Regions from separate parts of the Homo sapiens genome. Here region 2 is linked to region 1. The links come from fine-mapping of genetic effects on gene expression. Tissue or cell type: whole blood. Region 1 holds a variant in brackets; the other region holds the start of a gene. All regions are shown on one strand. Distances are from middle to middle.

Region 1 (5,000 bases):
TTCTGTGGCTGCATTATTCCTCCTCTCCAGAACAGGAGCCTGTCTGTGTTCTCTGAGAGCGACTGTGGGGGAAGGCTAATGACAAAAACCCTCGCCACACATGTGTGTCTTGCTCTGGCTTCTTGAGGAGCTAGTCTAGGATGTGTGGGTTTCTCCTTTCCGTGATGCTCTGCTGGAGCTCCCGTCACGCTGGCTTTCCTCTGCATCTGTTCATTGCCAGCAGCTCTTCCAGCACAAAGCATACACAGCAGGCCTGTAGCCTGGTGGGAATGCGGGGCTGGCTGGTTCGGGACGGTTCGGGCCGACCCACTCTCCACCTACCCTGTCCACTATAGGAGAAGCTGTTCAAACCAGCTATCGACGTCAAATATCCTCTCTTCTATCCCTCTCCACCATGCCCCACCTCTGTCCTCAAGACAGTCCCCCAGCCTGCTCATTAGAAGAAAAATTCATTTTTCATAGCCTCCTCAGCTTGCCTTGGTGGAAGGCTAGAAGGACATTTCATTTCTTTTGCCTTGAAAATCCGTGATGACATTTTCCTGAAGTTTTCATCAACATCTTACCTGGCCCTAGCTGAGATCTCATTTCCATCAAGGAGCAGCTCTTTTTGTTTGTTTGTTTGTTTGTTTGTTTGAGACAGAGTCTCACTCTGTTGCCCACACTGGAGTGCAATAGCATGATTTGGCTCACCACAGCCTCCGCCTCCTGGGTTCAAGCAATTCTCCTGCCTCAGCCTCCTGAGTAGCTGGGACTACAGGCATGTACCACCATGCCTGGCTAAATTTTGTATTTTTAATAGCAACAGGATTTCACTATGTTGTCCAGGGTGGTCTCAAACTCCTGACCTCATGATCTGCCCGCCTCAGCCTCCCAAAGTGCTGGGATTACAGGTGTGAGTCACTGCGCCCGGCCTAGCAGCTCATTTTTAGAAGGAAAGTGCCCTGGGGGTGGGCATCTGTTTTGCTGAGCATTTGAAATTTATCTGAATGAGTGGGGTCAGTCCAATGTCCTTTCCAGTGAGAGTCCTAGAATGGAGAACTTTACCATCCTATGCATTTTGCAATGCTGGCATTTTAATTGCTTAGTTTTACAACAAACATACAGTTCTTTTGAAATCAAGAAGTTAGATCTCACTAGAAAAAAAACCATAAAAAGCATTCCATGTCTATACCTTGTTCTCATAGAACCTAAAAGGTAAGTGATGAGGACATTTGAGCAGGAGGACTGATCATAATGCTGTCATGTCAAGGATGTGTCGGGGCTGGTCTCTAGAGCTCACTAACACCAGTAAGCGTTTGTCTCAAGGACTTTGGATAGACTCTCCTGACACACAGATGGAAAAGCACCTCTCCTCAGTAAAGATGACTGTTTCAGCCAGATCTAGTCTGACTCTCATTCCCTGAAGCTTACTGATGCCTGTTCTAACTAGGTGGCTGTTTCAAAAAATTCACCCTTTCAATGGACATGATTTCACTCTCCTCAACCATTTTTTCTGCCCCAATGAAACTTTACCTTAATCCAGACTAGTTCAAAGAGTGAGAGCTAGGCATCTCTTGAGCTCTGCTGCTGTCCAGTCCAACTTGGGGATTACACCCCAGAGTGAGTGGCCACACAGGCAGCACCCTGGCTACCTGGAGGTACCTAGAGGCTCACGGCAAGGCTGCAACCACCATTCTCACAGCTCTCCAGGGTCCCCACCTGGTGCTGAGACAAGGGACTCAATTTCAGTCTCTGAGAGTACAGACTTGCTGTGGCCGATCCTGTCTTGGCCACAGTTCCTTTGTGGATTGAGATCGATGACTACGCTGCACAGAAGGAGCTGAACTGTGAGGCCTGCCACAGAGGGTGGGCTTGACCAAGGATTCCTATTTCCACTTCCTAACATTTTAGTCCTTGTGCCTCTTTGTCATGATATGTTGATAAAGCCATCCAGGCAATCAACCTAGTCACTCTGTCCATAAGACTATTATACTTTCTGATGAGGCCATGGCTATATTTTTCAAAAATGAAGTGGCACCGACCCTGGGCACCTGCCAACAGTCAACTGAGGGTTGGCTATCACTTTTATTCTCCTTGCTGGTTAACTACCCCTCTGCTGCTCCTCTCTAAAACCATTAACCCTCCTGTCGTTAGGAGCTGCCTATGGGCTGCCAGAAATGCCGCTGGAGGCACAATACTCAGCGTTTCTTTCCTGAACCCTTGAGGGGCAGTTGATGGACACTCTGATTAGACCTCTTGAAGCTGGGTGGTTACAGCGGGGGGAAAGGAGATTTGCTGGGCCACATAAAGCTCCAACTCAGAAAGATCCTTTTCTTTATTTTCATAAACTTGACAAGGGGGAATGTCTGAGCCAGAATGGCAAGATTTACAAACAAAATTACTATAATTATCATAATTATGAAAGGGGTCTGGTGCTTTGGGACTTTATTCTAAACCCACGTTTAACATAAAGCAGTCTAATTGCATCAGGTTCTAAGAATGTGGAGTGACAAATGAATGCCTCGTGTGTGGTTCTTCCATCCTCGGAGCTGCTCTGATTTGGGCGGGAGGGTAAAAGTGATTTTTTAAGGAGAATTGGGTGACATTGGAGCTAAAGACCTCTGTACTTTGATGGGAAGATCCATTTGAGACTGAAATTAATTTAAGAACCATTCTTTGGTGAGGTTATCCTTGGAAACAATGACTCTGTGTTTTGAATTTATCTCAATCTGCAGAAAAACAGGATCCCAAATTAAATTTCTCTAAGAAAACAGTCTCAAAATCAAGGCTAACCTGTAAGTTCAAGTACTTCTAACAAATATTCAAAAGCTAAATAGATGGTGATAAAATTGTTCTCCCTCCTGACTGGTTCTAAATTTGTCTCTGATTCAGAATAAAACCACAACATTCTTTTTGGGGGTAGGGAGGTTTGAGCAAATGATCCGTAGCACAAACCTCATAAGCTACTGAAACAGCACACATTTCC[T/C]GTCAAGCAAACTCTTATGTTCACTAATAAAACAACACAGCATCACTGACAACATGAGAACTACATTTCTATACTAAATAAACACACAAATTATAGATTATACACATCTGGAAGAGTCATTAAGAAGAGCATCTGCTTTCTGTGTTTACACAGTAGAATATGGTTTTATGAAAAAAATTATAATCTGTGCTTCACTGAATGAGACAATTGTTGCTGAAGTAAAGAAGAATCAAGTCCCTTTTGTTTGTGGGCACCTGGCTGAGTGCATTACTGGGCATGTTCCCTCTCCTGGGACACCTGGGCCAGTAGAGGTAAATGGAAGCGCTAAGGTAGATGGCGGGTCCCACCAGGGGAGAAAGAGAGAGGGGAACATTAAGTTGCTTTCCAGCACCAAGAAAGCATCAGTATTTCTCCTCTGGCTCTCAACAGTCAATCTATCTTTATGCAGTTCTGGTCACTTAGTCTGCAAGTAGACACTGTTTTGTTATGTCATGAGATCCAATGTGGGAAGAACAATATGCTCGATGCTAAGATCCCGGGTTCCCATCCAGGTTTCCCTCTTATCACCAGGCAGGTCACTGACATTATCTCTGAGCCAAGGTTTCCTAACCTGTGAAAATGGAGTAAGTTACCCTTCCAAGTCTTTCACGATTTGGCAATTAAGTAAGAATCTCTAACAAAGTGTCTTCTAAACTGAGGACTGGTAAATAAAGGGAAGGCATTCGTGTTTTTAGGGCTTTGGTGGCAAGAAATGAGAAGGTAAGTAGAAAGGGTTTTGTTCTGACTCTCCACTCCCATCCAAAGAATGAAATGACTTCAGCAAATTATGCTCTGCAAGGTCTTCGCCGCTCTCTTCCTAGCTTCCTTTTTCAAGCACCCACTTTAATTTCCTAGATTCACAGACAGTGAACTTGACCTCAGGTTCATGACTGAGTGCCTGTAAGCATGTGCTGTGAATGTGGCATCATTCCATGAGGCAAAAGAGATGAGAGGAGAGGCTCTTGCCTGAGAAGAGCTTATAGACGATGGAGGCACAAGAAGACAGGAGAGTGATGTCTGGAACTAGGATGAGCTGGGCTGGGCCTTGGGACCAGAGGGACCATTTGGAGCAAACGGCTCTTGGCTACCCTAAGTGCTTCCTGGAAATGAAGACTTATAAAGAAATGGAGAACAGAACAATGCAGAGAAAATGGATCTGACAGAAAGGTAGGTTTGCATTCCATCTCTACCACTTTCCACAGCAAATCTCTCCAATCTCGACTGCAGTTTCCACATTGGCAAAGTGAGAGGGCCACTTTCTAGCTCTTCTGTTCTGATCTTCTGACTCCTTTTTGGATGGAGCAGGCTGCATGCCAGAAGCCATGTCTGCCTTTTCCCAAGCCACACAGTCCCCAAGAGCTGGGTCACTGCACACCAAGTCCAGTGAACAGATGCCATGTGGACACACGCCCACCCCAGAGCAGAAGGCTGAGCATTACCTGGTGTGGCTGTTGGAGGAAAGGCTCTCCCAGGGCTGCACGCTGCAGCCGGCCACGGCAAAGGCTCCCCCACAGCTGCCGTCCAGCTTCATGAGCAGGGCCTTGGCAGCGTTCTCAGCTGTCTTCCGGCAGTCATGAGCTCGCTTGAGCATCTGAGTGATGTTTTCATCCCCCGACTGGTCTCCTATGTGGCAGAGAAGCCAACGGATTAATCAACATAGGCCTGGACAAGGCACGCCTGGGAGGGACTATGCATAATTAACTCTGTTACTTAGGGCAGAGGTGGCACTGTGGAAGGGAATTGGCAGTGCCCAGCCGAAGAGAAGATCTGTGTTCTGGGCCTGGCACTATCACTTAGACGCTACATGTGGGAAGGTATTTCTCTGCTCTTTCTCTGGGCTCCACTGGCCTCAGGGACAAGTGTAGGAGTTAACCAATGGGATCACCACATTTCTGTTTCCAGCTCTAACACGCTCTGATTTTTCTAATGATCCAGGCTCCTGGCTTCTCCTCCCATTCAGCCACAAGTCTACCATTTGGCCATTCCTCTGTGCATT
Region 2 (5,000 bases), 430 kb after region 1:
TTTAACGTCTTTAGATGAATCCAAAGTTTTTAAGGTTTTAATGTTAAAAAGTCCAACTCTCATGTCTGATAGAACAGGAATGCACAACCCTCCAAACCACATCACCCACTACAGAGTGGTAAGTACAGGTCATTAAATGAAAGCAGCACAGAAAAGTGGCTTCAGAGAGGGAATCATTTAATGCCCCTTACCTTCATTAGCCCCATTCCCCAAGTCTTACCACATAAACGTAAATTCCAGGTAAAACTGTGCTTACCAGGTAAACACACTTCCAGACAAGTTCCTTGTTGCCCTAGATTGCCATCCCTAAACTTCTCCTACATGGCAATTCTGCCACAGCATAATTTTCAGGGCAGCTCCACCCACAGTTAAAGTTATGATTTAGGGTTCATTACTACACATACCTTGAAACTTTTAAGCAGACACATTAAAGTAATGCAGCTCAAGGAATGTTAACAACTTTTTCCACTTTTGCCCCAGCCAGTTTCTACTCTAATCCAAAACGGCTTCTTTATCACCACCCACTTTACTCAAATTACGCTTACAGAATTCATTATCCTCCCGGGTAGAATCACCGAAAATAATGTGAGCATTTATATAGAAAGTGTAGTTCAGATAAAGCAATATATTAATAGGCCAAATTAGAAAAGGATAGCACGCTGCTAGTTTTCTGTATGCACTCTTGCCCGTGTGAAATTAAACTTTTTTGCATCCATGCGGGGAGCGGTGGCTCAGGCCTGTAATCTCAGCGCTTCCTAAGGCCGAGGCGGGCGGATCACTTAGGGTCAGGAATTCGAGACCAGCCTGGCCAAATTGTGAAGCCCCTTCTCTACTAAAAATACGAAAATTAGCCGGGAGTGGTAGTGGGCACCTGTAATCCCAGCTACTCGGGAAGCTGAGGCAGGAGAATCTCTTGAACCAGGAGGCGGAGGTTGCAGTGAGCCAAGACCACGCCACTGTACTCCAGCCTGGGTGATAGAGCGAGATTCTGTCTAAAAAAAAAAAAAATTGTATCCAAAGTTGGAGTTTGCCTTTATTATTGCAAATGAGATAATAACCTTTCAAGTAGGAAAACAACAAAAAGGAAAACTATATAATGAAATTTCTTTTACTCCCAGAACCAAAATAACGAGACTTCCAGATAGAAATTTGCATGGAGTCAATCAGAATTACATATTATTTTCATTTCCGAACAGAATTACTCCATCAAGTTTTCTGATATCTTCCTAATGTTTCTCAGTAAAACTTTAGCAAAGTAATAAAAATTCACCTAAGAATGATCAAAATTGCGTTGAGTCCCAAATAAATAATTTTTTTTATTTTAAGGGAAAAATTCCGCACTTTGCTTTCTTTTTTTTTTTTTTAGGTAGGCAGGGACAATCAGGAAGCAGCCCCGGATTTTCAGAAACGATCTTTAGCATCACCAAGACATAGACTAAAGAAACATGTAATGCACAACTTAGGCTGCTCCTTCATCCAAGGCAATTCAAATTTCCACGGATACCAAGTCTTCAATGGCCGGTGTCAACCATTCAATAGAAGCATACCAGAAAATGTTGCGATTGCCTTCTTCACCACAAGAGTCTAAGTGACACAAATTTGGGCAGAAGTAATTATTTGGCCAAGCCGGGAGGCAGGAAGCTTAAATACCGCCTCTGTAGGAAGTGCGGGGGATCCGAAGCAAACACCCCAAAGTTTGTTTGTGAGTGGAGGCGCGGAGGCGCCCGGAGCCACGCCGAAGCTCACCTGGTCAGCGCACAGAGCCGGGTAGGAGTCGGGTCTAGCCCTAGTTTGCTCCTGAGCGCTTCGTTCCTCTCAGGCTACTGCGTTTAAATCAATACTGGGTGGCAAACGATACCCATTCTTTGGGCTCTGAAGTTTGGAATTCATGGGTTCTGCGGCACAAGAAAGTTTCTTCACAGGTTATTTCCCTGTCCGAGGCTGTCGCTTAGCTCATCTCCTCCCGGTGCGGCCCTGGGGTGTCCACCAAGCCGCCGGGCAGATCGCTGCCCCGTGCTGCGGCATCTTGATGCCCAGGACCCCGAGGCTGTGGGGCAGCCCCTCCTACCTGGGACAAGCGGCCAGAACTCCTTTTCCCACAGGGAAGAACACTCCAAGCCCCCGGAAGAGTGCGCATCCTAAGGAGATGTCTCCCAACGCCTAGACAAAGACAGCGCTGGGAAAAGTTGGACCAACTGGCACCCCCGCAAGGCGAACAGAGCAGTCCCCTCGGCCTTCGTGGCCGAGCCGGCTACGCGCTCTCGGAGTCGCGGCCAACTTTTCCCGCGAGCTTCTGAGCAACTTGCCGCAAGTTGGGGCGAGGGGGCAGAGCAGGGGTCAAGGGCGCGCGGAGGGACTGATCTCGCTCCTGTCGGTTTCCTCGTACCTCCCCGCGTACCTGCTGATGTATCCGTCCCCGTCGCCGTCGCACGTCTGGAAGAGGCGCCGCATCCTCTCCTCCTCGCCGGTGCTGGACGTGTCGCTGCTGCTGCTGCTGCTGCCGCTGCCGCCGCCGCCGCCGCCGCTGCTGGAGCTCCCCGCAGCCGCTGCCGCCGCGGCCGCCATCATGCGCCCGCTCCCTACTTGGGAGGAGGAGTACGCGCGACCGCAGCTGGAATCCGCGCGGCGCGCAAGCTGCCTGCAGCCCCGAACTTGCCTGACAACGGAGCATGCCCAGTGGCCGCCGGGGCGCTCCGGGCGAGGGATTCCACCTCTCCGGGTTTTGCCCGGACTGGGAAGATGGGCGCTCTGGAATCGCCCGAGGAGGCACCTCAGGGAAGAGGGAGGAGGGGAAGGTGGCTGGAAGAGTCAGGGAGCTAAGGGTGGCAACGGGAACACAAGAGGAGGCAGAATACACTGGAAGCCCCCGGGAAGGGTGTCAGCATTGTGCATCCGGCAACGACGCGGGCCCGGGACACTTGGGGACGCTTCAGGCAGAGGGCAGGTGTACTCCCGGCAGACCTTCTCCGACCGCCCGGAGTCATGGCTTCCTTTTCCAGAGAAGCTATATAAACACTCTCCTTCTGCAAACTCAAAACGGTGCTTGTAATCCCACTCTCCAGGATTGTTCCGGGTTCTGTACCCATAGCCACCAATGAGAACCGGAATGACTGGCCTTTTTATGAAATTTTGACACCTGTCAAGAAACCTGGCCCTCGCAGCCCTCATCTTGGCTCCCACTCTGTACTGGGAAGAGTCTGCACGCTGTGTGGCATTGTGTACGTTGGGTCAATTTCTGGAAACGGCTCACTCTACTGGCCAGGCATCACTAGAATTTCCCCCAACAGCTTTAATAATGCCAAGAGCGAACATAATAGATGGTCTCATTTGATCCACACTACAGACCTGGAAGATGCCTCTTTTATTATCAATCCTACGACTTAGGAAGTATTAATAGATAAGTACCTCATAGAGTTATCTTACATATAAAAGGAGAGCAGACATAATGCAGTTAGGACAATGTCTGACACCTAGTAAGTGCTCAACAACTGTTAGCTCTCATTGTTCCCAATTTACAGGTAAGAAAACTGAGGTACCAAGACCTGCTCAAGGTTCCAGGTTTAGTAAGTGTTAGGGCAGAGGCAAGCCCGGGCAGCCTAACTCCAGAGCAGGAGCCTTTAAACACTGCACTATTCCCCCATAGCCAAAGGGAAACCACAGTGAAGCAATTTGTGGTTTCGTGAATGACTCATTATTCTGTCCTGGATTTTCTGCCAGAGAGGCGTGTGAAGTTCTCTGGTGGTTTTAAAATATGTCCACAGATTCTTTGGTGCACCCCTCATCAAGAGGTGGAGTCTGTTGCTTCCCCTAAACCTGGATTGGACTTGTGACTGCCTTGACTTCTGAGACTAGGTTAGAAAAGGCAATGCAGATTGCACTTGGCTCTCTCCCTTGGGACACTTACCTTTGAAGCCTTGAGCTGCCTGAAAAGAAGTTTGGCTACCCTGAAGCTGGAGAAACCATGCAGAAAGACCATGTAAAGAAAAAAGGAGATGACCAAAGAGCTACAGCTGTTCTAGCCCTGGATCTTAGAATCTTCCCAGACTAGGTGCCAGACATGAGTGAGAGATGATGCTAGCTCTAGATGCTGCAACTGCATTGGAGACCCTGAGCAAAACTGGCTAACCAACCCCCAGAGCTGTGAAGATAATAATTAAAAATTGTTGTTTTAAGCCATTAAGTTTTGAGGTGATTTGTTATGCAGCAATATATAACTGGAACAAGTCCATATGTCTTGGGAATGTCTGCTAGGTCAGAAGGAAGGAATCTCTGCTCTCTTTCTCCTCCTCTCCACCCCATCTACCTATTCCTACTTTACTTCTTTATTATTCTCTAAGTTCCCAGTATTTCAGGGCACTAAAATCATAGATTCATGAGTTAATGAGTTAATGGGTTATCATGGGAGTGGGACTAGTGACTTTATAAGAAGAGAAGGAGAGACCTGAGTTAGCAGGCTCAGCCCCCTTGCCATGTGATGCCCTGCACTGTTTTGGGACTCTGCACAGAGTCCCCACCAGCAGGGTGGCCCATTGACCTTGGACTTTTCATTCTCCAGAACTGTAAGAAATAAATTCATTTCTTTATAAATCACCCTAGTTTCAGGTAGTCTGTTCTAAGCAACAGAAAATTGACAAGACCAGAAATTAGTACCGGGAGTGGGGTGTTAACGAAAACGAATACCTGAAAATGGAGAAGCAGCTTTGAAACTGGATAATGAGCAGAGGCTACAAGAATGAAGCAGCAGTCTAGAAAAAGCCTAGGTTCTAGTGAGGGCTGAGAAGACAGGAAGAACAGGGAAAGTTTGGAACTCCTTAGAAATTGGTTAAATGGTCATAATCAGAATGCTGATGGAACTATGGACAGTAAAGGCCATTCTGACAAGGTCTCAGATGGAACTGAGGAACAAGGTACAAGAAAATGGAGTAAAGACCATCCTTGTTATAAATTGGCAAAGAACTTAGCTGAACTGTTCTATGCCTGAGGGCTTTCTGGAAGGCTGA

The links. PIP is the estimated chance that this variant, and not a neighbour inherited with it, causes the effect.
Region 2: it holds the start of MCC, and the variant in region 1 is fine-mapped to the expression of MCC in whole blood (TOPMed, PIP above 0.99). The same link has a PIP of 0.9 or more in blood mononuclear cells.

What each region holds. Positions count from the first base shown.
Region 1 is chr5:113,059,541-113,064,540 of GRCh38, forward strand. It overlaps MCC (MCC regulator of Wnt signaling pathway), which reads right to left. Exons shown (of 19, transcript NM_001085377.2): 14 at 4,444-4,627. Among named protein-coding and RNA genes, the nearest start is that of DCP2, 85 kb to the left of the region's middle. The variant T/C (reference allele first, on the strand shown) is at 2,966.
Region 2 is chr5:113,485,847-113,490,846 of GRCh38, forward strand. MCC (MCC regulator of Wnt signaling pathway) reads right to left here and starts at 2,607. Exons shown (of 19, transcript NM_001085377.2): 1 at 2,399-2,607. The coding sequence starts at 2,568. RefSeq lists an enhancer at 2,506-2,800.